Linked DNA regions of Homo sapiens: all the other regions are linked to region 1. Evidence: fine-mapped expression QTL. A gene starts in region 1. Each other region holds a variant in brackets. All regions are shown on one strand. Distances are from middle to middle. Region 1 holds the start of PTPRS (protein tyrosine phosphatase receptor type S). Region 2 overlaps PTPRS (protein tyrosine phosphatase receptor type S). Region 3 overlaps PTPRS (protein tyrosine phosphatase receptor type S). Region 4 overlaps PTPRS (protein tyrosine phosphatase receptor type S). Region 5 overlaps PTPRS (protein tyrosine phosphatase receptor type S).

The links. PIP is the estimated chance that this variant, and not a neighbour inherited with it, causes the effect.
Region 2: its variant is fine-mapped to the expression of PTPRS in whole blood (TOPMed, PIP above 0.99).
Region 3: its variant is fine-mapped to the expression of PTPRS in whole blood (TOPMed, PIP above 0.99).
Region 4: its variant is fine-mapped to the expression of PTPRS in thyroid (GTEx, PIP 0.91).
Region 5: its variant is fine-mapped to the expression of PTPRS in whole blood (TOPMed, PIP above 0.99).

Annotation. Positions count from the first base shown.
Region 1 is chr19:5,338,836-5,343,934 of GRCh38, reverse strand. PTPRS (protein tyrosine phosphatase receptor type S) reads left to right here and starts at 3,123. Exons shown (of 38, transcript NM_002850.4): 1 at 3,123-3,271. RefSeq lists a silencer at 2,916-3,195 and an enhancer at 5,062-5,099.
Region 2 is chr19:5,202,854-5,207,952 of GRCh38, reverse strand. It overlaps PTPRS (protein tyrosine phosphatase receptor type S), which reads left to right. Exons shown (of 38, transcript NM_002850.4): 37 at 1-31; 38 at 1,111-2,445. The coding sequence ends at 1,179. Among named protein-coding and RNA genes, the nearest start is that of PTPRS-AS1, 28 kb to the right of the region's middle. The variant C/G (reference allele first, on the strand shown) is at 2,306.
Region 3 is chr19:5,224,713-5,229,811 of GRCh38, reverse strand. PTPRS (protein tyrosine phosphatase receptor type S) reads left to right here. Exons shown (of 38, transcript NM_002850.4): 15 at 128-321; 16 at 470-496; 17 at 3,968-4,085. Among named protein-coding and RNA genes, the nearest start is that of PTPRS-AS1, 50 kb to the right of the region's middle. RefSeq lists enhancers at 3,262-3,880, 3,881-4,500. The variant A/G (reference allele first, on the strand shown) is at 3,052.
Region 4 is chr19:5,295,244-5,300,342 of GRCh38, reverse strand. The region is part of intron 1 of PTPRS (protein tyrosine phosphatase receptor type S); the gene reads left to right. Among named protein-coding and RNA genes, the nearest start is that of PTPRS, 43 kb to the left of the region's middle. RefSeq lists enhancers at 1,644-2,144, 4,557-5,099. The variant T/C (reference allele first, on the strand shown) is at 2,514.
Region 5 is chr19:5,260,847-5,265,945 of GRCh38, reverse strand. It overlaps PTPRS (protein tyrosine phosphatase receptor type S), which reads left to right. Exons shown (of 38, transcript NM_002850.4): 5 at 750-938; 6 at 2,974-2,982. Among named protein-coding and RNA genes, the nearest start is that of PTPRS, 77 kb to the left of the region's middle. The variant C/G (reference allele first, on the strand shown) is at 2,978.

The sequences.
Region 1 (5,099 bases):
CAGTGGCGCTCAGCTCACTTACAACATCTGCCTCCCGGGTAGAAGCGATTCTCCTGCCTTCTGAGTAACTGGGACTACAGGCACGCGCCACCACGCCCAGCTAATTTCTGTATTTTTAGTAGAGATGGGGTTTCACCATGTTAGCCAGGCTGGTCTCAAACTCCTGAGCTCAGGCAATCCACCTGCCTTGGCTTCCCAAAGTGCTGGGATTACAGGCGTGAGCCACCGCACCTGGCCAACGTATTTTTTGTTTGAGAGGGAGTCTCACTCTGTTGCCCAGCTGGAGTGCAGTGGTGTGATCTCAGCTCACTGCAACCTCTGCCTCCCAGGTTCAAGCAATTCTCCTGCCTCAGCCTCATGAGTAGCTGGGACTACAGGCATGCACCATCACACCTGGCTAATTTTTGTATTTTTAGCAGAGACAGGGTTTTGCCATGTTGGCCAGGCTGGTCTCGAACTCCTGACCTCAGGTGATCCACCCGCCCTGGCCTCTCAAAGTGCTGGGATTACTGGCATGAGCCACCGCGCCCAGCTGCTACAATGTATTTTAATTCTGTTTTTGATGTATTTAATCTGTTTTCTTTGACTGCTCACAAAATCCCTCAGAGGTACTAGTGGTTGTCCCCCTTTTCTAGATGGGGACAGCTAGGCTTACAGTGTTGCGGCCACTTGTTTGAGGTCACCTCCCAAACAGGTCACTGGGCTGGGGTTCGTGCCATGATCAGCCCCTCCACGATCAGCCATCTCATTTTACTGTGTCTCCACCAATTCTCCAAGGCTTCAGCACCCACTGTGCGTGAGAAACCACGCTAAGCATTTGTGCACAGACCACCCCATTTGATCCTTCAAGATGGGATCGTGTTCCCATTGCTTGGATGAGAAAACTGAGGCCAGATTGTAAACGGTCAGATCAGGGTCACCCCACCAGGAAGAAAAACAAAGTAGGCTCTGCAAACGTGGCTGCTGCACTGGCCGCTGGGAAACTCCAAGCTTAAATTAGGTTCCTTGTTAAATTATTCATTATCTCCTCTCTTTTCTCCTGTTTATGACTTCCGCCTTATCGTTTTGTTCCCCGGGTTAATGCTTTTTGTTTATCTGCATCTGTGGCCTGGAATGAATGAATCAACAATTTTGGAGGAAAAAAAAAACCAATTCTAAAGTTGAGTTCCTCTGTTGGGCACCAGGCCTTCTCCAAATATGTGCCTTGAGGAAATAAATGCTTTCGACATGATCAAAACACAAGGACTGATGTGCAATCTTGCTTGGTGGCTGTGAGCCCTCCAACCCCCTTACCTTTGTCAATATCCCCCTTTTATTTACTTCCGCTCTGTTTTTTTTCCTTATTTTTGAGAGTCTCACTCTGTCGCCCAGGCTAGAGTGTGCAGTGGTGTGATATTGGTTCACTGCAACCTCCGCCTCCCGGGTTCAAGAGTTTCTCCTGCCTCAGCCTCCCAACTAGCTGAGACTACAGGCACCTGCCACCACGCTCGGCTAATTTTTGTATTTTTAGTAGAGATGGGGTTTCGCCATGTCGGCCAGCCTGGTCTCGAACTCCTGACAAGTGATCTGCCCACCTTGGCTTCCCAAAGTGCTGGGATTACAGGCATGAGTCACCGGGCCCGGCCTCTTTTCTCTTATTATTCCATCTTCAGGCACCAATGGCAGCCAGGCTGCCACATTATAGCAATTCATCATCACACCCTCCTTAGGAGCAGGGGCTACCTTGCCCCATTTTACAGATGAGAGCTGAGATCCAGAGGCAAATCCATTCTACAGATGGGGAAAGTGAGGCTCCGGGCCTCACACAGCAAATCAGTGTTTTAGCTGGGTTCCAACTGTGGCTCGTCCTGACTCCAGGGAAGCAGGGGATGGTAATTAGGTGAGACCTGTGTAAAGTGCTTACTCTATAAGAAGTGCTCCATCATCCATTCATTCATGTGTTCAACCTACAATAGGGATCTCTGGAGCCACACTGTAGTGTAACTAGAATAAAAACGGGATAATGGGACCAGGCGCGGTGGCTCACGCCTGTAATCCCAGCACTTTGGGAGGCCGAGGTGGACGGATCACTGAGGTCAGGAGTTCAAGACCAGCCTGGCCAACATGGTGAAACACTGTCTCTAACAAAAATACAAAAATTAGCCAGGCGTGGTGACAGCACGCCTGTAATTCCAGCTACTCCGGAGGCTGAGACAGGAGAATAGCTTGAATCCAGGAGGCGGAGGTTACAGTGAGCCGCGATCACGCCACTGCATTCCAGCCTGGGCGACAGAGTGAGACTCCGACTCAAAACCAAACAAACAACAACAACAACAACAAACCGGGATAATGGGATAGAGTGGAGTGGGGCGTGGCTGGTAGCTGTTGTCAGGGAGGGCTTCTCCCAGGCGCTGCTTATTTGAGCAGAAATTGGAAAGATGAGAAGGGGAAGTTCTTGGATGCTCAAGTTAGAGGAACTGTAAGAAGCTGGCTGAGGCGGGAGGATCACCCGAGCCCAACTACTCAGGAGGCTGAGGCGGGAGGATCACCTGAGCCCAGGAGTTTGAAGCTGCAGTGAGCTATGATCATACCACTGTACTGAGGCCCAGGTGGCAGACCCCATCTCTGAAAAAGCAAAGAAGGAGCAGCTGGTTTTTCTGGATCATTGACATGGTGGGGGGGAGGGGACAGGGTAGTGGGCGCTAATGTGAAACGGCGAGCTGCAGAGAGGAGGCGGGATTTTATTCCAAGGGTACTGGGGAGCCGTGGCACAGTTTAGGGCAGCGCACAGAAAGTGCCATGCCCTTTGCACCCAGGACGCTGGGGCTCCCGCACGGACAGTAGCCCCAGGGGCCCTTCCCGCCGCCGCCGCAGCCGCCACCACCACCACCACCCCAGCCGCCCACGTGTCCCGCGAAGCCCCGCGCCCCACGTGCTCCCGCGGCCCTTTAAACACCCCGGAGCCACGTGACCGCGCTGCGCCGTCCCATTGGCCGGGGGGCGTGGCGGCCGCGCGGCTGCGCAGTGACGCGCACGGGCCGGCCCTGCCCCCGACCCGGCGGCGGCGGCGGCGGCGCTGGCGGAAGGGATGACGTCACCGGCTGGGGGGGCGCGCGAGCGGGAGCTAGGGGAGCGCGAGCCGCAGTGAGTGTCCTCGCGCCGCCCGCCCGGCAGCCCGGCCGGCGCGCGCACGCCGCGAGCCGCTGGCGCTCGGGCTCCGCTCGGATCCCATGCAACAGCCACGATGTGAAGCGGGGCAGAGCCGGGGGAGCCCAGCCCAGCCAGCCTCCAGGTAAAGCCAAAAAAAAAAATAAAATCATGGATTAGAGGAAAAAAAAATGCAGGCGCTCCAAGGGGGGTCTCGGAGGCAGCCGAGTGGGCAGCGCGCCGGCTTTGTGCCGGGGAAGCCTGCACGGCCATTGTGCTCGGAGGATGCTCGGCTGCAGCCAGTTGCACGCCCAGCCGCTGCGCCCCGGTAGCTGCGCCCGGACAATGCCCCGAGGGACAGGGCCGGGGCCGCGCTGGGGGCGCTCGGCAGGGGGTGCTGGGGGGGCTTCGTCCGCGGCGTGGGAGGGGGCTGGGCTGGAAGCGCCCAGAGCGCGGCATTGGAAGCTGCCCAGCGCCGCCGGCTGCACCACCCCGGGCTGCGGGCGGGGCAGAGGCGCGGAGGGGGGCGCGCGTGTGTGCGGAGCCGGTGCCGGCCCCGGCGGCGCCCGGCCCGGGTCCCCGGGCGGGTCCTGGAGGCAGGGGGCGCTGTGCCGGGGGATGGGGGGCATGCGGGCGCCCCGGAGCGGAGAGGAGCCGGGACGGGTGGCTCCAGGCGGGGTGGCTCCAGGGCTGCTGCGCCCGCCGCCTTCCCTCTCCGGGTCTCCCTCCCCTGGAGACCCCCTAGTCTACGCCGTCTCCCCTGGAACACTCCGGGCCCTGTCGTTGCCTTATGGGAGGTCGCCCCTCCGGCACTCGGGCATTGCCCCACCCTTCTGCGGCCTCGGCGCCCCCTTCCAGCCTCCCCACCCAGGGGCGAGCCTCAGCCCCCAGCCCCAGGGGCTCTGGCAGGCAGACGCGCACGCCCAGCACCCCAGTCTCCCCTCCGCGCTGGGGGCCCCGTGGGGATCCCGAGAGTGGGGAAGCCGCCCCTGGAACCGCCAGCCCCGCGGGTTCCGCACGCCCCGGGAGCCCCCGGGGGCTGCGGGGGGAGGGGAGGTGACGTCATACCGGGGGCGGGGCCGTCGGCACTGGGTTAAAGGGGGCGCGGGGCGTGCCCTGAGGGGAGCCCCCCAGGTTAGAGTGCCCGCGCCGTGGGTGCGAGGGTTCGGCCAGGTTGCGGCCAAGTTCACCTCTCTTTATGGGAATCTCTCCTAAAATTAAGATCCTCCCCTTCGGACCTCCCCCTACAAATCCTGGACATTTCCCACCAATTCCCCCCCTTCCCAAATTGGGGAACTCCCCTTCGGCCGCTTTCTCTCCAGAATCCTCAAATCAGGGAACCTTTCCCACAAACTGGGAATCTTTTTTTCAGCCACACCCCCCGCCCCAAATCTGGGACCTCCTTCTTCGGTTGACCCTCTTTCCCCAGTCTCAAATCGTCTTCTCGTCTCCCTAAATATGCAGCTTCCAAGAACGCCCCTTCCTCTGCAACCCTTCCTCAAATCCAGCCACCTCCTGGGACCTCATTCCCCCAAATTAACAAACCTCCCAGAGCCTCATTGGGGGTGCCTTGCCTCCCCCTTCTGGGCTCAGCTGGGATTCCCCTGTCCCCCCCCGTCACAATCTAGGGGAGCCCCCTTCTGAGCATGGGGTCCTCCTGCCTCTGGCCGAGACCCTAAAAACACATCCCGGCAGCCGCGGCTAGTGAAGCGGGTGTCCGAGGTGTCGGAGTCCCGGCTGAGCAGCAGGGATGATACCTAGAAGCCGGAGGAGGCAGGAAGAGACCCCTAGGGTCCCAAGGACAGGGACCCACACGCTCCGGGCTCCCGTCCGCCACCACCCGGACTTTGGCTGCTGGGATTCTGGCCTCCTCTGGGTGGCCCCCTATCGCTGCTGTCCTTGGGGTGCAGAGGGTGACGGCGCCTCTTTGTCTGGGGCGCCCTTCTTCCCTCTTTCTGCCGCCTTTCGCCCGG
Region 2 (5,099 bases), 140 kb after region 1:
AACCCAGCGGCCGGCCATGGTGCAGACAGAGGTAAAGATGGGACAGGGAGGGGAGGCAGCCTGGCCTCACGCCCCGACTGCCCCTAAGCTCCAGTTTCCTCCTCTGTGAGATGGGTACAGCCACCTGGGACTCTCTGGGTCACTGTGGGTAGACGGTCCACAGACCCCTCCCGCACTGGAAGGGGACCAGTAACCCTTTTAACACAACAGTCAGCTGAAGGTCAAAGGCGAGAAGTGGCCCTTGGAGTGGACAGAGATGGGCTCATTGCAGTCCCCAAGTCACAGCAAGTCTGTGGCTCAGCCTGGACCCTGCCAAGAACCACTGACCCCCAAGTCCAACCAATGTACAGATGGGGAAACTGAGGCCCAGACTCCTAGCTTCAAGGGGAATGTTCCAGTGGAGGGGGTTCTGAACAGCAGCCATGTCTTAAAAGATGAGTAGAGGGGACCCGGCGTGGCAGCTCACACCTGTAATCCCAGCACTTTGGGAGGCTGAGGTGGGAGGATCGCTTGAGCCCATCCTGGGCAACACAGAAAGACCCCATCTCTACAAAAAAAATAGAAATGAGGCTGGGTGTGGTGGCTTATGCCTGTAATCCCAGCACTTTGGGAGGCCAAGGCAGGCAGATCACCCGAGGTCAGGAGTTTGAGACCAGCCTGGCCAACATGGCGAAACCCTGTCTCTACTAAAAATACAAAAATCAGCTGGGCATGGTGGTACACGCCTGTCATCCCAGCTACTTGGGAGGCTCAGGCAGGAGAATCACTTGAACCCAGGAGACAGAGGTTGCAGGGAGCCAAGATGGCGCCACTGCACTCCAGCCTGGGCAACACAGCGAGACTCCGTCTCAAAATAAATAAAAAAGAAAAGATGAATAGGGCCTCCAGGCAGACGGGAGGAGAGGGCGTTCCGGGTGAAGAGCCTGGCTGTGTTAGGCAGAGAGGTGTGGCATAGCTCACTTCATTGTGGGAGGGCCGTGGGGGCCAAAGAGACCTTCTGCAAGAGACACGCACAAGGCTGAGGAGCTTGGCCTGCTCCTGAGGGCGATAGGGAGCCCTGGGAGGCGTTAGAGCAGCGGAGGTACTAACAGGTCACCTCTGCTCCCCCAGGATGAGTACCAGTTCTGTTACCAGGCGGCACTGGAGTACCTCGGAAGCTTTGACCACTATGCAACCTAAAGCCATGGTTCCCCCCAGGCCCGACACCACTGGCCCCGGATGCCTCTGCCCCTCCCGGGCGGACCTCCTGAGGCCTGGACCCCCAGTGGGCAGGGCAGGAGGTGGCAGCGGCAGCAGCTGTGTTTCTGCACCATTTCCGAGGACGACGCAGCCCCTCGAGCCCCCCCACCGGCCCCGGCCGCCCCAGCGACCTCCCTGGCACCGGCCGCCGCCTTCAAATACTTGGCACATTCCTCCTTTCCTTCCAATTCCAAAACCAGATTCCGGGGTGGGGGGTGGGGGGATGGTGAGCAAATAGGAGTGCTCCCCAGAACCAGAGGAGGGTGGGGCACAGACCATAGACGGACCCCTCGTCCTCCCCCAGCGGTGGTAGGGGGACCCGGGGGGCTCCTCCCCGCTCTGCAGCCTGGGGACACTGGGCTGGGACCAGAATCCAGCTTTCTTTTAAAACTCTCAGTGTAACTGTATCCCGTGACATTTCATTTTTTTTAAATAGTGTATTTTTTTTTCCATTTTTTTTTTTAAGAGAAACAAACAAAAGACTCGCCAGTCAATGACTTTCAAAGAGAACTAACTTTGGCTTATTCATATTCTGTTCAAAGACAGTCTATTTTTTCACTGTAGAAAGCGTCCTTGTGTGATAGTTACGTTCGCAAACGCGCACGCCAGGCCCATGGCTGTACCTTGGCTTTTTTTTTTTTTTTTTTTTTTTTAATTTTTCCTACCATCAGAAAGTGTGCTTTGCTCACAGAAGAATGGGATGTCCTTTTTTCTTTCTTGGCTTTTTTTTTCCCCCTTTTTGTTTCATTTTTATAAATTAAATTTTCAGACATATCAAATACAGTTCTGAGGGTAAGGTCATGGGGGAGCTCGGACCCAGTGGCGTTGGGTGCGGTTGAGGGGGACGCTGCTGTAAGAGGAGAGAGATGACAGTGGTCCTCCTCTGAGAGCCTGAGCTGTCTCCCCGTCTCCCGCCCCCAAGGAGACAGAGAGGATCCTACTTCTTCGGGGACAGTGGCTGTATGGCTGTGCTGCCCCACATCAGGGACCCTTTCCCCCTGGGACTGTGGGGCAGTTTGGGAGCAAAACCAGAAGGACAGGCCCCCCTCTACCCGCCTACCCTGAG[C/G]AAGCGAGTTGTTCCTCTTTGTACAAGGGCAGGTCTGCGGTTACTTTCAACACTGTTTATTCCAGCGGAAGCAGCCGGGTGGTTTTCCCACCCCCGTGTATGTAGATATATCGACTTTGTATTAAAGGAAGATCGTCTGACCCCGGCCCATTGTGGAGTCTTTGTTGCGCCCCTGCCTGTCCAGTTTCATCCCTGGGGTGGAGGTCGGTGGGGTCCTGGAGAGCTGATCTCGTTTCCTTGTGTGAACAGTCAGAGGAGGAGTTGGCCCAGAGAGGTGGTGGTGCTTGTCCAAGACCACACACCGCTGAGGCGGGTGGATCACAAGGTCAGGAGTTTGAGACCAGCCTGGCCAACATGGTGAAACCCAGCCTGGCCAACATGGTGAAACTCAACTCTACTAAAAATACAAAAATTAGCCAGGCGCAGTGGCGGGCGCCTGTAATCCCAGTTACTCAGGAGGCTGAGGCAGGAGAATCGCTTGAACCCAGGAGTTAGAGGTTGCAGTGAGCTGAGATCATGCCATTGCACTCCAACCTGGGTGACAGAGTAAGACTGTCTCAAAAAAAAAAAAAAAAAAAAAACTCAAAACACCGATGAAGTGGCCAGGCCAAGATTTGAACCCAAGCCCTGGTCCTGTAGGGGCTGCCTCGTGTTCTCATTCTAATAAGTGACCATGACTGAGAATTCACCATGGGCCAGACACTCTGAGATAGAAGTTACCAGCCCCTTGGCCAGGCGCGGTGGCTCACGCCTGTAATCCCAACACGTTGGGAGGCCGAGGCAGATGGATCACCTGAGATCGGGAGTTCGAGACCAGCCTAGCCGACATGGCAAAACCCTGTCTCTGCTAAAAACACAAAAATTAGCCAAGCATGGTGGCACCTGCCTGTAATCTCAGCTACTCAGGAGGCTGGAGCAGGAGAATCACTTGAACCCAGGAGGCGGAGGTTGCAGTGAGCTGAGATCATGCCATTGCACTCCAGCCTGGGCGACAGAATGAGACTCCCATCTCCAAAAAAAAAAAAAAAAAAAAAAAAATCCCCATTTACATATTAGGAAACTGAGGCTCAGGGAGGGGCACACAATGAGTTTGAGGTGGAGCTGGGATTCGTACCCCAGCCCATCTCACCCGCAGCCCTGAGCATCACACGGTGCTGCCTTCTCGAAGTGCCCTGGGGAAGAACTGAGTCCGTGGAGGGAAGCAACAGGTTGGGGACACTCTGCTCCACCCCTAGGCCACTCAATGAGCAGATCCATGCACTGAGCCAGAATCACATCCCTGGGGATGGAGAGTGAGCCATTTTGTATCTATACCCTTGCCTGAGTCACTTCTTGCTTGGGCATAGAAGCCACCCACAGGAGCCAGAGATAGGATGAAAGAGCCCCCTATGACCTCAGGGAAGTTCCAGGAATGAGAAGGGGTGATCTTAGTGACACCAGGGACCCAGCTCAGGGAAGAATAGGACTATGTCTCTTAGAAACCAACAGATCAAGGCCGGGCGCAGTGGCTCACGCCTATAATCCCAGCACTTTGGGAGGCTGAGGCGGGCAGATCACGAGGTCAGGAGATGGAGACCATCCTGGCCAACATGGTGAAACACCGTCTCTACTAAAAGTACAAAAAACTAGCCGGGCATGGTGGCAGGAGCCTGTATTCTCAGCTACTTGGGAGGCTGAGGCAGGAGAATCCCTTGAACCTGGGAGGCAGAGGTTGCAGTGAGCCAAGACCATACCACTGTACTCCAGCCTGGGTGACAGAGCAAGACTCCGTCTCAAAAAAAAAAAAAAAAAAAAAAAAAAAGAAGCAACAGATCAGGTAGTCAAAAAAATACAGATGTGACTAACATCATTAATAAGCTTGGCCAAAAATATTTAACAAACCCTATTATCCCCTCCTACTCTAACATTCTCAAACGCACATGGAACATTTGTGAAAATTAACAGAGATCGGCTGGGTGCAGTGGCTCACGCCTGTAATCTTAGCACTTTGGGAGGCCGAGGCAGGAGGATTACCTGAAGTCAGGAGTTCAAGACCAGCTTGGCCAACATGGTGAAACCCCCCGTCTCTACTAAAAATAAAAAACATTAGCTGGGTATGGTGGCACACGCTTGTAATCCCAGCTACTCAGTGGGCTGAGGCAGGAGAATCGCTTGAACCCAGGAGGAAGGAGGTTGCGGTGAGCTGAGATCGCGCCTCTACACCCCAGCCCAGGTGACAGAGCAAGACTTCATCTCAAAAAAACAAACAAAAAATATTAACAGAGATCTTCACAAATTCCAAGAAACAAATATTAGATGAGGTATCCTGATCTTGGCTCTGAAGAGTAATTAGCCTCCCCTGGAAGGGGGAGGGAAATTTTAAAATACTTTTTTTGGCGGGGAGGTGGGTGGGGGACAGAGTCTCGCTCTGTTGCCCAGGCTGGAGTGGCTGAATCTCAGCTCACTGCAACCTCCATCTCCCAGGTTCAAGCGATTCTCCTGCCTCAGCCTCCTGAGTATGTAGCACTACAGGCGCCCACCACCACACCCAGCTAATTTTTTTTTTTTTTTGTATTTTTAGTAGAGACAGGGTTACAGGGTTTCACCATGTTGGCCAGGCTGGTCTCAGACTCCTGACCTCAAGTAATTCGCCCACCTCGGCCTCCCACCGAAGTGTTGGAATTACAGGTGTTAGCCACCGTGCCCAGCCTTAAAACACATTTCTAAATAAGGTATGTGTTAAATCAATGTAATCCGGGCGCAGTGACTCATGCCTATCATCCCAGCACTTTGGGGTGAACATAGGGAAACACTG
Region 3 (5,099 bases), 110 kb after region 1:
AAGAGCGCCCAGTTATTCACCGGCAGCCACTCGGCATCCTGGAATCGGACAGTGGCACTGCCCGGGGCAGGGCCGGGCGCCCTGGTAACGGCTCCGCCCGCCCCTCCCCTCCCCTCCCGCCCGCCAGTGCCCAGCGCGCCGCCGCGGAAGGTGGAGGCGGAGGCGCTCAACGCCACGGCCATCCGCGTGCTGTGGCGCTCGCCCGCGCCCGGCCGGCAGCACGGCCAGATCCGCGGCTACCAGGTCCACTACGTGCGCATGGAGGGCGCCGAGGCCCGCGGGCCGCCGCGCATCAAGGACGTCATGCTGGCCGATGCCCAGGTGGGCGGGGGGCCGGGGCGGGGCCGGGGACGGGCTCCGGGCGGGGACGGGCCCTTGCGCTCCCCCCACCTCTGCTTCTCTTTCTCCATCTCTGGCCTCCCCCGCTCACCTTCCTCCTCTCTCCCCTGCCGCCTCCTCCCGCGCTCAGTGGGAGACGGATGACACGGCCGAATATGTAAGTAGCGCCCCTGGCCACCCACCTACTGCTGTGCGCTTCCCGCGGGCCGTGCTGTGCTGTGACTCCTGCACGCCCCTTATCATCAGTAGTAAAACGGTCTCCTCCTCTGGGCCCTCCCATGCGCCCCTCGCTCTCCCATTACCTCTTGGAGCGCCCAGCCTCGATGTTTGCACCAGGGAAATGGGATACTCGGACCACTGTGCGCCCCAGGGGGCAGACCCGAGGGTGGCTTGAGCAACAGGACCTGAGGGTCGTCCCTGAATCCTCTCACCCTGATGGCTCCTGCCATTGGTGGGGCTTAAGCCTCCTGGGTCCTTCTCCTGCCCGTAGTCATTTCTCCTGTGAGTATGTCTCCTCTCCTGTTGACCCAGCCCCACCCTTTACTGTCACTCAATTCAGCCCTGTCTGGCCTAGAAATGCCTCTCTCTGGATATGCTGTCGTCTTCATTCTGGCCCCCGGGTGATGAGAGGTGTCAGCGGGGCCAGAGTGGGGAAGGATGTCTGTGATAGCCTGGTTACAACCCCACAATGCTTTAAACCAGAGAGGAATTGCTGTGTGACTTGGGGCAAGTTGCTACCTCTCTCTGGACTACCTCTCTGCCCCTAAAACGGGAGTACCAGTCTCTGCTGAGAACCCCAGGTCTGACATTAAATTGGCACTGGTCCCTTGGCTGGGCGTGGTGGCTCATGCCTGTAGTCCCAGCACTTTGGGAGGTTGAGGCAGGTGGCTCACCTGAGGTCAGGAGTTCAAGACCAGCCTGGCCAACAGGGCAAAACCCCTTCTCTACTAATAATACGAAACAGCCTGGTGTGGTGGCAGGCACCTGTAATTCCAGCTACTCGGGAGGCTGAGGCAGGAGAATCGTTTGAACCTGGGAGGCAGAGGTTGCAGTGAGCCAAAATGGCACCACTGCGGTCCAGCCTGGTCAGCAGAGGGAGACCCTGTCTCTTTTTTTTTTTTTTTTCTCCAGACGGAGTCTCACACTATCGCCCGGGCTGGAGTACAGTGGCGCCATCTCGGCTCACTGCAACCTCCACCTCCTGGGTTCAAACAATTCTCCTGTCTCAGCCTCCCGAGTGGCTGGGATTACAGGCATGAGCCACTGGTCCTGGCTGATCCTGTCTCTAATAAACAAACAAACAGGCACTGGTCCCACATGCTCTGATGCCTCCCATCTCTCACCCACACTGGATCTAGAGGGAATGTTCCCACCTGGGCTTCAACTCTGCTCTTCTCGCAGAGACCCTGGGAGGGATGGACTGTGAGGCTCAGGGGTAGGAGACCCTGTTTGTGCATCCCCGTCACCCCTCCTTATCCCCTTGGCCTGGGTCTACCCCACAGTTCCCAGGCATGCCGGCCTGTGCTTGGGGGGGTGCGTGTGTGCTTGCAGACATGGGCACACATGATGCTGTGATCGTGTGCACAGGTGTTGTGCAAGTCCGCGTGCCCGGGAGTGTTCTGTGCTGTCATTCATTGGACGAGCACTCACTTATTGAGCACCTACTATGTGCTAGATGCTGAGGATGTGGTGGTGACAAGAGCCCCTCCTCCCTAACAGTCATACTCAGTGAGAGGGATGTTAATCGGAACAAAACACACATCGGCAGGGCATGGTGGCTCACGCCTGTAATCCCAGCACTTTGGGAGGCCAAGACGGGTGGATCAGCTGAAGTCAGGAGTTCGAGACCAACCTGACCAACATGGTGAAACCCTGTCTCTACTAAAAATACAAAACCAGGCGTGGTGGCGCATGCCTGTAATCCTAGCTACTCGGGAGGCTGAGGCAGGAGAATTGCTTGAACTAGGGAGGCAGAGGTTGCAGTGAGCTGAGACCATGCCATTGCACTCCAGCCTGGGCAACAAGAGCGAAACTCTATGTCCAAAAAAAAAAAAAAAAATTGTTACAGCTGTGGTGGGGATGGGGTTTAGACAGTGAAATAAACATTTAAAAATCAGCTCTCAGCCAGGCACAGTGGCTCACGCCTGTAATCCCAGCACTTTGGGAGGCAGAGGCAGGCGGATCACTTGAGCCCAAAGTTTAAGACCAGCCTGGGCAACATGGCAAGATCCCATCTCTACAAAAAATATAAACATCATTAGCCAGGCATGTGGTGGTGCACGTCTGTATTCCCAGCTACTTGGGAGGCTAAGGCGGGAGGATCACTTGAGCTCAGGAGGTCAAGGCTGCAGTGAGCTATGATTACACCCTGCACTCCAGCCTGGGCGACAGGGTGAGACCCTGTCTCAATAAGATAAAAGAGTAAAAATCAGCTCTCTGGGTGGGCAGGAGGGGGCAGTCCTGTTTTGTAGCATTGGACCGTTTCCATGGTGTAAATACTTCCCACCATGTCAATTTCAAGCTACCGGGGAGGTGCCCAGTAGCCCATAATCATGTATTCCTACTCTACAGATGCAATAGACAAGATGATCTCAAAGCAGTAACCATACAGATACCCACAGAGAACAGTAACCCTAGTGAAATAACTAGATTTGCTGTATTTATTGCCTTTGCTTTCAATATAACTTAGTTGATTGTAAGTTTATACAGTTT[A/G]TTTATTTATTTTTGAGACAGTCTTGCTCTGTCACCCAGGCTGGAGTACAGTGCCACGATGTTGGCTCACTGCAACCTCCGCCTCCTGGGTTCAAGTGATCCTCCTGCCTCAGCCACCCCAGTAGCTGGGACTACAGGCATGTGCCACCACGCCTGGCTTTTTTGCTTTTTTTTTTTTTTTTTGGTATTTTTAGTAGAGACGAAGTTTCACCATGTTGGCCAGGCTGGTCTGGAACTCCTGACCTTAAGTGATCCTCCTGCCTTGGCCTCCCAAAGTGCTGGGATTACAGGCGTCAGCCACTGCGCCCAGCCTCGTACAGTTTAATTTTTAATAACAGCTCTGTTTCATAAGTGGCTCACAAAATTCCTGAAAATTTAACCAGCGGCTCTCATGAGTTGGTACCGGGCACCTCCAGCACACCAGTGGGTGTAGACAGGGGGGAAGGCCAGTGCCAAAGGGCCTGAGGCAGGCTGTGCCTGGTGCATTGGAGGAACAGCAAGGAGAGCCCTTTGTGAGCCACAGGGAAGACTTGGGCTTTGACCCCAAGAGAGGTGGGAGCCATGGAGGGCTGTGGGGAGAGCGGGGACGGACCCTGACTCCAGTGCTCACAGGCGCCCTCTGGCTGCTGTGGGGAGGACAGACTGTCGGGGGTGATGGCAAGGAGTGAGGGGAGCGGAGCAGAGAGGACCGAGTTGGTCCTGGCAAGCGACAATGGGCTCGTCCGGCTGGGTTGTTGCATGTACCCTCTGAGCATGGCCATGCCACGTGTCGTGGTCTCTGCATGAGCTCATGTGCACGTCTCCACCCCTGATCCGGGCCCTGCATCCTCCTTGCTTGTTCTCAGCACGGGGAGTGGGGGTGGGTGGGGCTGCTCCCAGCCCCAGCCGTCGTGCTGACCCCCAGCCGTGCCTGCAGGAGATGGTCATCACAAACTTGCAGCCTGAGACCGCGTACTCCATCACGGTAGCCGCCTACACCATGAAGGGCGATGGCGCTCGCAGCAAACCCAAGGTGGTTGTGACCAAGGGAGCAGGTATGCAACCCGCCCTCCTCCCACCCACCAACAGCCCCTTTGCCCCCACTGGCACCAGAGCGTGACTCCAGAGTCCTTGAGCTCACAAGGGCAGGCAGAGGGTGCACCAGGCAGCTGGAACAGTGAGACAAAGGTGTGAGGGCTGCTCAGGTGGGTGTCCAGGGCCCAGCTTGGCCCCCCCCGCCCCTGCCTCCTCCTTTGTCACTCACTTCCTGTCCCCCCGGCTCCCACCAGACAGAAACAGTTAACAGCCACCTCTGACCCCTTTGCCCTCTCAACCTTTACTTGGGCTGTTCCCTCTGCCAGGATACCCCTTCCCCTGCTGGCTGGCTCCTCTTCTGCCTTTAGGTCTCAGCTCAAGGTACACCTGGCCCTGGAAAGCCTTCCCTGATTGCCTCATCCCATAATCTTGATCCTTCTGGGCCCCCTAGTCTCCTGTGCTTCCCCCATCCAGGCTCTGGTCGCCCCGGCTAGGTTGTTATTTCAGGGTGGTGCACCTGTCTTCCCCTACTGCACCAGGAAGCCACCTTTCTCTTGGTGGCCCTGCCTCAGTTTCCCCTTCTAGCCCCTCCATTGTCCCTTCCATCGTCCCCAAGGGGCTGGCTTTTTTTTCCAGCCAAAATGGAGCTGAATTAAGAAAAAGAGGCTGCCGTGAAGATGTAAGGGGAGGGTACACCGGGCGGAGGGCACAGCCCAGAAAAAGACTTGGGGGGTGGGGCGTGGTGGTGGTGGTGGTGGGCGGAACAAGCTCGGGTGTTTCAGGAACAATCGACTGACTTCTGTGGCCTTCATCCCAGTCCCCACACCCACCCTCTCCTCGGGGACCCTTGTAGCCACACCACTGTGTACCCCACCTTTCAGGCCTCCCAGCTGGACACAGCCCCTGCCCTTGTCCACACTATTCCCTTCACGCACCTTGTCTGCGTCCTCCAGCATCCAGCTCTAACGCCACCTCCTCCAAGCAGCCTCCTGTGATCTCTCCCTCCCTTCTTCTAGCCAGCAGGGCACTTCCCT
Region 4 (5,099 bases), 44 kb after region 1:
ACTCTGACCATGAGCCACACTGGAAATGTGGCCGGTGTGACTTGAGGAGCAGAATTTTAAATTTTATTTAATTTTTCTTTTTCTTTTCTTTTTTTTTTTTTTGAGATGGAGTCTCGCCCCGTTGCCCAGGCTGTAGTGCTGTGGCATGATCTCACGTCACTGCAGTGTCCACCTCCTGGGTTCTAGCAATTCTCATGCCTCAGCCTCCCATGTAGCTAAGGCTACAGGTGTGCACCACCACACTCAGCTAATTTTTGTGTTTTTAGTAGAGATGGGGTTTTGCCATGTTGTCCAGGCTGGTCTCAAACTCCTGGCATCAAGCAATCCACCCACTTTGGCCTCCCAAAATGCTGGGATTACAGGTGGGAGCCATGGCACCCGGCCTATTTAATTTTTCTTCATTTAAGTTTAATGAGTCACATGTGGCTAGTGGTCCTTTTTCTTTTTCTTTTCCTTTATTTTATTTTATTTCGAAGCAGAGTTTCACTCTTGTTGCCCAGGCTGGAGTGCAATGGCGCGATCTCAGCTCACTGCAACCTCCGCCTCCCAGGTTCAAGCGATTCTCCTGCCTCAGCCCCGAGTAGCTGGGATTACAGGTGCGCACCACCATGCCCGGCTAATTTTTGTATTTTTAGTAGAGATGGGGTTTCACCGTGTTGGCCAGGTTGGTCTCAAACTCCTGACCTCAGAAGATCCACCCATCTTGGCCTCCCAAAGTGCTAGGATTACAGGCGTGAGCCACCACACCCAGCCACTAGTGGTTCTTGTATTTGATAACTCAGACCCAGACAGTGAGTAAAGACAGAGAATTTCAGGTGACAGTAAAATAATGGGTAATGGGTGATGGGTGCTGCTTGAGCCAGGTGGTCAGCCAGGGCATTTCTGAGGAGGTGATCCTTGAGGGAGAATGGAAGGGTGAGAAGAAAAGTGACAAGAAAATGTAGAGGAACAGTGTTCCAGGCAGAGGCATAGCCTGTGCAAAGGCCCTGAGGCAGGACTGCACTTGGGGTGCTGGAGGAACAGCGAGGAGGCCCATGTAGCTGGAGCAGAGTGAGGGGGAGAGAGGGAGGAATGGAGGGCAGGGAGGAGATGGAGCAGGTCATGCAGGGCCTTGTGGGCCACCAGGAGGACTTGGGCTTTGACCCTGAGGGAGGTGGGAGCCATGGAGGGCTGTGGGCAGAGGAGGGACGGGACCTGACTCAGGTGCACACCGGCACCATGTAGTGGGTGCTGTGGGGAGGACAGACTGGAGGGCGAGGGTGGGAGGCTGGGGACCAGGGCAGAGGTGACTGTGCTGGTCCGAGCAGGCAATGATCAGGCTGGATGGGTTGGGAAGGGAATATGGAGAAAGATGGACAAAGTGAGTAGAAATTTAGGAGACAAACGTGAGAGTATTTCCAGACCAACACCATATGGGGTGAGGGAGGAAAAGCAGTGAGGGCCAGCTTCCAGGTTCTAGCCTGAGCCCCTGGAAGGACAGAGCTGCTATCAGCAGAGTTGGGGAAGACATGGGAGGAATGGCTTTGCTGGATCCAGCCATGCCTGAAGGTGTCACACATTTTCCAGGAAGGGGAAGGTAGCCTGGCCTGCGGGGGCGGACAGGTGAAAAAGGCAGACATGGAGCTGGGGCGTGCCTGTGGTGGGCATCATGCCCGCTGCGGTGCGGCTGGCGGGTAGACCCGGCGCCAGGGCTGTGATGTGAACATGGGTGAGGCGGGCTCCTGGCTGGTTGGCACCCGCCCATGCCCCGGGTCATGAATGCTGTGCTAGGTAGGAGGCGGGAGCCTTGGGCATGGGCAAGACCAGGGCAGGGAAGCTGAGAGGAAGCTGCCCAACCAGTTTCTCTCTGGCTCTCACAGCCAAGAGTACAGAGTTTGTACCTAAATGAAATGTCTGGGGGTTTTGGTGCCAAATATGAAGGAGGTGGGACAGACAGGCTGGGGGAGGGGGTCCTGCCCCGGTCAAGGGTATGGTTTTATCTGAGGGTTCCCCATCAGGGAAGGTTTAAAGGCTTGAGAACATCCCAATGCAGTCACCCCTGCTTTGGAAGTTTCTTCAGGAGACGAAGGGACACAGCTGTGTCTAAGAATGTCCCTCACAGTGTTGTTTATAAGGGACATAATGGGATAAACAAGTGGGAATTGATTAAATTCTGTGACCCGGACACTGGAACATGGTCTGCTAATGGTGATCCCCATCGAACGAAAGAAAAGCACCCATTCGTATGCATAGAAGAAAGACTGGAAGGAGGCCGGGCGCTGTGGCTCACGCCTGTAATCCCAACACTTTGGGAGGCCGAGGCGGGCGGATCATGAGGTCAGGAGTTTGAGACCAGTCTGGCCAACATAGTGAAACCCTGTCTCTACTAAAAATACCCAAAAAATTAGCCGGGCGTGGTGGTGTGCGCCTGTAATCCCAGCTACTCAGGAGGCTGAGGCAGGAGAATTGTGTGAACCCGGGAGGCAGAGGTTGCAGTGAGCCGAGATCGTGCCACTGCACTCCAGCCTGGGCGA[T/C]GGAACGAGACTCTGTCTCAAAAAAAAAAAAAAAAAAAGAAAAGAAAAGAAAGACTGGAAGGAAATGGTTAGCCTCAGGGCCATCGTATTTGCTGTTCCTCCTGCCTGCAACTCTGTTGTCATAGGTGTTTGTATGTCTGATTTGCTCTCTTCCTCCAGGTGTAAATGCAATTATCACCACTTCTAAGAGGCTCCCCCAGGGACCCCCCAGTTTTTGCAGCCTTGCAGTGTGGTTTATTTAATTATTTTTGGCATCTCTTAGCACTGCCCGGCCTTATGTTATTGACAGTGTTTGTTTTTCTGTGGGTGTCCATCCCCCCTGCAACTAGTCTGTGCCCCCCAACAGGGGCAGGAGTGCTGGTTCCATCATGCTTACCACTGTGTCCTCAGCACAGCACACAGTAGGTGCTCAGCACATGTACAGGGAAAGAATGAATGAGAACGGCCGCATGAAACAGTTTCTCTCTAGGCGAGGGATGGATTGTGGGTAACTTTTATTTTCTTCTTTATGCTGATTTTACCTAATTTTCTGCTGCACGCGCCTATTTTATAATTAGAAGAAAAGTTATTTTGAAAAAAATTACCCCCCAACGTCCCAGCTGTGGGAGCTGACGTGATCCAGCCCCGTGTTCCTCCCCAAGGGCAGCCGCCTCCTGGGTGTATACAGAGGACATATCAATGGAACGTTTTTGGAGGGGTCCAGGGGTCAGCCCCCAAGGGCACGGAGTAGGCGGGGCAATCAGGGAGGGCTTCCTGGAGGTGGCCACCCTTAACCTTTAGGGTGCTCAGGCCAAAAACCCAGAAGTCATCCTTGAGTCCCCTCTTTTCTGTACATCCCCAAATGAGCCGTTTAGAAAATTCTATTGGGTCTGCCTAGAATGTGCCTTTCTCCCTCATCCTCTACCCAGTCCAGCCCCAGCCTAGTCATCCCCCACAGTCTGCCCTCCCCACAGCAGCTGAGCATGTCTGTGAGTACCTGAGTCAGGGCCTTCCTCTACCCACAGCCCTCCATGGCTCCCACCTTCCTCAGGGTCAAAGCCCAATTCCTCCTGGAGGCCTCTGAGGCCGTGCGCATCTTGTCCCCATTCCTTCCCTCCCCTCCCTCCCCTCCCCTCCTCTTTGTCTCCCCTTCCTCACTCTGCTCCAGCAACACTGGCCTCCTCGCCATTCCTCCAACACGCCAGGTGCAGTGCTGCCCCGGGGCCTTTGCATGGACTGAGCTCTCTGCCTGGAATCCTCTTTCACTTTCTCTCACCTTCTCCTGGTCTTTGTTCGCATGTCACCTCCCCTCTCTCCTATCCTGTGTTTATTTTATTTTACATTTTTTTAGAGATAGAGTCTCGCTCTGTCGCCCAGGCTGGACTGCAGTGGCACCATCCTAGCTCACTGCAGCCTCAACTTCCTGGCCTCAAGCGATGCTTCCGCCCTCAGCCTCCCAAGTAGCTGGAACCACAGTCATGCGCCACCAGGCCCAGCTAATTTTTAAAAGTTTTTGTAGAGATGATGGGCTATATTGCCCAGGCTGGTCTCAAACTCCTGGCCTCAGGCGATCCTCCCTCCTCATCCTACAACCCTGAACCCAATCATCCTCAGGGCCCTTACCACCATCTGACCCACAGTGGATTTGATTTCTTTTGTTTCTCATGTGTCACCCTCTTTAGAGCATCCACACCCTGAGGGCAGGGATCTTTGTCAGTCTTGGTCACTGTGTGTCTAGGATTGTGCCTGGCATCGGGGCTTGGAAATGTTTGTTTAGAAAAGGGTAGGCTGGGCTTAACCTTATTACGGGCTCATGTCTGTGATCCCAGCACTTTGGGAGGCTGAGGCAGGAGGTTCACTTGAGTCTAGGAGTTCGAGACCAGTCGGGGCAACATGGGGAGATCCCATGTCTACAAAAAAATCCAAAAATTAGCCAGACGTGGTGGCATGTGCCTGTAGTCCAAGCTACTCAGGAGGCTGAGGTGGGAGGATCACTTGAGCCCAGGAGGTTGAGCCCAGGAGGTTGAGGCTAGAGTGAGCCATGATGGTGCCACTGCACTCCAGCCTGAGCAACAGAGCGAGACCCTGTCTTGAAAAAAGGGTAGGTGAAGATGCCTGCTTTATGACAAGGGCACACACAGTGTGGCCTTTGGAGGAGAATAAGGTCGGAGGGGCTCTCCTGGGTGAGGCTGGGCCTGATTGTGCAAATGTTTGCTGAGAACCTCCTTTGTACTGTGGACCTGTGCTAGGTGCTGGGGACACTGGGTGACCGAGACAAATCCTGCTCTGCCTCCTGAGGTCACAGTCTGGTGGGAGAGGCAGACCCGGGGACTAGGCGCATGTAGGGCTCTGTGCTGATGGGGCCACCCAGCCAAGGGGGAGGGCACCTGGCCCACCTCCCCCAGCCCCTCGGGGGTGGCTGTGTCCCCTGCCAACTGCAGTCACCACTGTGGAATAGGGGCAAGAGTCTGCCTCCACAGAGACATGGACAAGAGGCCCAGAGAGGGCAGGACTGGCTGGGAAGCGGCTGGCAAGCCCTTGTCTGCCGTCCCGAGTCCTGGGCAGCCCAGAGCCAGGCCTGTATGCTGCAGGTCATGCAGCCCCAAG
Region 5 (5,099 bases), 78 kb after region 1:
TTTTTTAAAAGATAAAAAGAAAGGCGTCCTCAGGCTGCTGTAAATGAACCCACTCAGCACTGTGGACCTTGGGGCCAGGTTTGTGCTTATATGTAGTAGGGTGTAGAGCATCTCTCAGCCCCACCCAGTCCATTCCAGGAGCACCCACCCCCAAGTCCTGACCCCCAAGTTGTGACAACCTCAGATATCCCCAGACATCGCCCAGTGTCTCCCAGGGCAGCAGAGTCACCCCCCAGTGAGAAATATCATTCTACCTGGCTCAGCTCCCTGACACCAGCCTCCCCCTTGTACAGAAGAGGGACCCAACCAGGTGCAGTGGCTCATGCCTGCAATCCCAGTGCTTTGGGAGGCAGAAGTGGGAGGATTGCTTGGGGCCAGGAGTTTGAGACCCGCCTGGACAACACAGCGAGACCCCCTCTCTACAAAAATTTTAAAAATTAGCCAGGCGTGGTGGCGCATGCTTGTAGTCCCGGCTACTCAGGAGGCTGAGGCAGGAGGATCACTTGAGCCCAGGTTGTTGAGACTGCGGTGAGCTATGATCGAGCCACTGTACTCCAGCCTGGGCAACAGAGCAAGACCCTGTCTCAAAAAAAGAGAGAGAACTGGCTGTAAAGGATGGCACCCATGGCTGAGGTCACGCAGCCAGGGAGGAGCTGGACCCGTGGCCAGGCAGTCCCTGAGCCCCAGGCTCAGGAGTGGCTGTGCAGTGCTCAGAACCATGCCCATTTCTCTCACGTCTCTGCCCTCAGAGGACCAGCTGCCCTCTGGCTTCCCCAACATCGACATGGGCCCACAGTTGAAGGTGGTGGAGCGGACACGGACAGCCACCATGCTCTGTGCAGCCAGCGGCAACCCTGACCCTGAGATCACCTGGTTCAAGGACTTCCTGCCTGTGGATCCTAGTGCCAGCAATGGACGCATCAAACAGCTGCGATCAGGTGAGTGAGGGTGGCTGACAGGACGTGGGAGCCTTGGAGGGCAGCAGGGGGTGGGGAGCATCTCCAGGGCCCAAGTTCTGGGGACTACTGGAGGACAGACAGAGACAGTGTGTGGCCGTGGCAGGCGTTGGCTCTGGGGGAGTGGGGGCAAATGTCTTCAAAGCCGCACACTGAGGATATTAGGGGGCACAGATGGGCATGAGTACTGGAGAGCTATAGAGGGTGGTAGAAGAATAGTGCTTCAACACCTGGCCAATGAAGATATAATGGATGCAGACATGCACAAGGATGGGGAGTTATATAGGGCCATGGGCGGGGAGAGTGTCTCCCATGCTCAGGCAGTGAGATCACAGCTGTCACCCACAGACAGTTGTGGGTGATAGGAAGCCACTGAGGGGGCTGGGCGCAGTGGCTTATGCCTGTAATCCGAGCTCTTTGGGAGGCCAAGGCAGAAGGCTTGCTTGAGGCCAGGAGTTTGAGACCAGCATGGGCAATGTAGCAAGACGCTCATCTCTGAAAAGAAAGAAAGCCGCCAAGGATGGTGGGTATCGGCAGTGCCCAAGCAATGGGAGACAGACAGGCAGAAGTGTCAGTGAGCCATGGAGGGTGACAAGGGGAGACCAGCTTCAATGGGTATGTAATAGGGAGCTATGGAAGGTGGCAGAGAGCATCCTCTACAGAAGCATTAGGCACGTCCAGTGAGAATACAGTGGGGCCCAGACAGGCAGGAGTAGTGGAAGCTGTGTAAGGCAATGGCAGGTGTCCAGAGGTGACAAGTAAGGTGATGGGGAGCCATAGAAAACTACAGGGAGAGAGTCTCTCCAAGGCTGAGCAGTAAGAGGTGATGGCGGGGCTTCAGGTCTGTAAGGGGGCACAGACGGGCAGTCCAGCCTGTCTGTTCAGGCCCTGGCTGGGCTAGGGAGACCTTGGGACAGAGCCTTGGAGACGGGTGGTTCCACCATTGTGTCTCCACAAAGCACCCACATGGCCCATCTGTGGGTCCATCTGTCTGGGGGGCTGTGTCTGCGTGTGTGTTGTCCCCCCGCTTCACGACATGTCCACGTGTGCATGTCTGGGCTCCCTGTGCCGGCCTGGCCTGCCTCCCGCCTGTGGGCACAGGTGTGCAGGCCTGGCTGCTGTCACACACGGGCCTCCCTTCCCCCGCCCGGAGCAAAGTGTCCGCCTGCATCTCGGCCACACGTGCACCCACATTGCAGTCACTCCCGTGCCTGTGCACACAGGGCAGTGATCCGCGCACGCGCCTCTCAGCCTGCACCTCCCTAGTGCTCGTGCGTGGGGACACACGTGGTGGGGATGTGTCTCCATACATTGGGAGCACACGTGTGGCTGCACATGCGTGTTTGTCTGTGTCACGGATTTACTGTTTTCAGTTGTGCCGGGCTTGACGCCCTGCCTTCGTTCAGGTCACTGTTGAGATCACCCTGCACCTCCACACACCCCTCTTTTTGCTTTCTCTCTCCCCTTCCTCCGAGGATCCCGCCACGGAGCCCCCTTTGCAGCAGTACCTCCCCGAATCATCCCCAGCGCCCCTCACTCACTGCCCATCGTTGCCCCCCACCAAAGAGCCTACCTACCTGTTCTCCGCTTTCTGCTCCTCCTCCTTAGTGAAAACCAAGCCCCAAAAAGATCAGACGTGGAGCCCAGAATGTCTTCCTTGGAGAGACTCAGACCTCACACTGGGGGGACAAATCGCCTCCTATCTCCCAGCCTGGCTGAGGATGTTTGCAGCTCATAGGCCTCTGCAAGCAGGGGGAGCGGTGGCCTCAGTTTCCCCATAAAACATGCCTATTTTCCTTGTGTTCTGGTGACCTCTCCAGGATGGAATGTCTAGCGCCTGCTAGGTGCTCAGTGAACATAAGCCACTTTAGGAATCATAAGAAATGTTGTTATTATTATTCTGAGCGTCCCCCTCCCCTCCCCCGCCCTCCCCTCCTCGCTGAGGACATAGGATTCTTTGTAACCACCCGTTAACGTTCCTGTTCTCTTTTCTTATCCTCCTGTTGTAAACGTTCAGAAAC[C/G]TTTGGTAAGTCTGATTTCATCACCACGTCAACAACTAACGCCCCATCCCCTTTGTGCCCCTTCTGCTCCCCTTCTCCTCACCAAACTAACAGCCACCGTGATGGTAACTGTGACCCACTCTGCCTGGTATGTTTACTAACGCCCTCTCCCTCCTCCCCGCGACCGGCCCCTCAGCCCTCCCCAGCTGGCACTAGTGTGCGGCAGAGAAAGAAACCCAAAGGAAAAGAGGAAAAGAGACAAGTCCACCCAAAGGAAAAGAGGAAAAGAGACAAGGCCAGGCAGACCTCAAAATGCAGGCTGAGGGGGGTTCAGAGGCATCCTCGGGCTCATGGAACTTCGCACCTAACAACATTTCCTCCCGCACTTTTTTCTTGGCCTTAGCCCTGCTGGAAAAGGATTTAATTACAGAAGTTTGGGGGCTGGGGCTGGGCGTGGAGTGGAGATTTTTCCAGCCTAGCTGCTACTGGGCACTTCTCATCCACTTTTCTCAGCATTCAGCCTGAATCTCCTGAAATCAGTTGTGGGACTAATTCATACTAAAGTGAGAGTGACTGATATCAGCCTATGCTATCAGTCCCTTCATCTCTCTCAGGGTGGGAGGCGGAACACCTTTTAATGGCTAAGGGATACATTGTTTCCACTTGATAGAATAGCCCTGAGTGATTTGGCCAACTTGAAAAGACTTCTTTTTTTTTGAGACAGTCTTAATCTGTCACCCAGGCTGGAGTGCAGTGGCACCATCTCGGCTCACTAAAGCCTCCACGTCCCCGATTCAAGCAATTCTCCTGCCTCAGTCTCCTGAGTAGCAGGGATTACAGGCACCCACCACCACACCCGGCTAATTTTTGTATTTTTAGTAGAGACGGGGTTTCACCATGTTGGCCAGGCTGGTACCCCAAACTCCTGACCTCAGGTGATCCACCTGCCTCGGCTTCCCAAAGTGCTAGGATTACAGGCGTGAGCCACCACGCCCGGCCTGAAAAGACTTTCTTTAACCCTGACTTCCACCATCGTCATCCCAGTGTCCTAGCAAAGGCCAGCCTGGATTTCCGCTGACTCGGATTCCAGTTCTCCAGGGTGTAACTTTAGGCAAACTTCTGTTTGCTCCCCTCTAAAGGGTGCAGAGTGGCCTCACGAGAACACCTCGAAAGATAATTCAGGGACTCCGAAAAGTTCAGGCCAGAAGCTCCTCATCCCAGGAGGCTGGAGAGCTAGGCTCAGTGCCCACCCCTGCCTCATGATGGGACCTCAGAGATTCCCCTCTGAGCCTCAGTTGGCCCGTCTGCAAAATGGGTTTGGGCCACGCAGAAGGAGCTGCTTTTTCACGTGTCTGGCCACTCCTGGCAGATCGAGGTCTTGGGATCTTCTTGGCCCCAGCCAGCCGAGTTATCAAGTTATCGGCCATCAGCAGCAGAGAGAAGGGGGCCCAAAACTTCTCCCTGGATCATGAGCAGAGGGAGTAACGTTCCAGCCCCGAGCCGCCTTTTCCTGCTTTGCAGTTAACCATCCCTGCCTCCAAGGCCCAGATAAACAGGTCTTTCCTCTTTTCCTCTTGGTAAGAAGGCTGCCAGGCTCTCCCTGTCCCTCCTACTCGGCCTGTCTGTGACACCCTTCCTTGGCTGTATTAATGCCCGGCACTGGGGCACTAACCCCACCCACCTCCCCTGTCTCTAACAAGATAATTCCTGTTGCTCCTTGTCCCCTCCTAGTCTGGACTTGAAAGCAGTCTCTTGCTGGGCTCCCTAAGACGGAAAGAAGGAAGGGGGGGTGATGAACCTCCCTCCCTCAGCCCAGAGGGAAGGCCACCAAAGGGCCAGGCTGACAGACCTTCCCTGGGCATAGAGACGCCCCTCACCCATCCAGAGAGGCTTCTAGACTCCATCCCTCCACCCCCAGAGATTCCCGCCTTCTACAGGAAACCCTCCTGCTTTGACAAGCCCTCAGACCTCACCCTGCTCCTAGGAGGCCTCTCCTAGCTTCCTCAGCAAAGCCCGCAGGGTCCGTATGCCCAGGGCTGGCTCGATCCCCTCCCTGGGGCAGAGTGCTGAGGCCTGGCTTACGGCCCAGCCCAGCTTCCCTGGGGCCCCCCGGCCCCCCAACAACCGCCTTGTGACATTCACC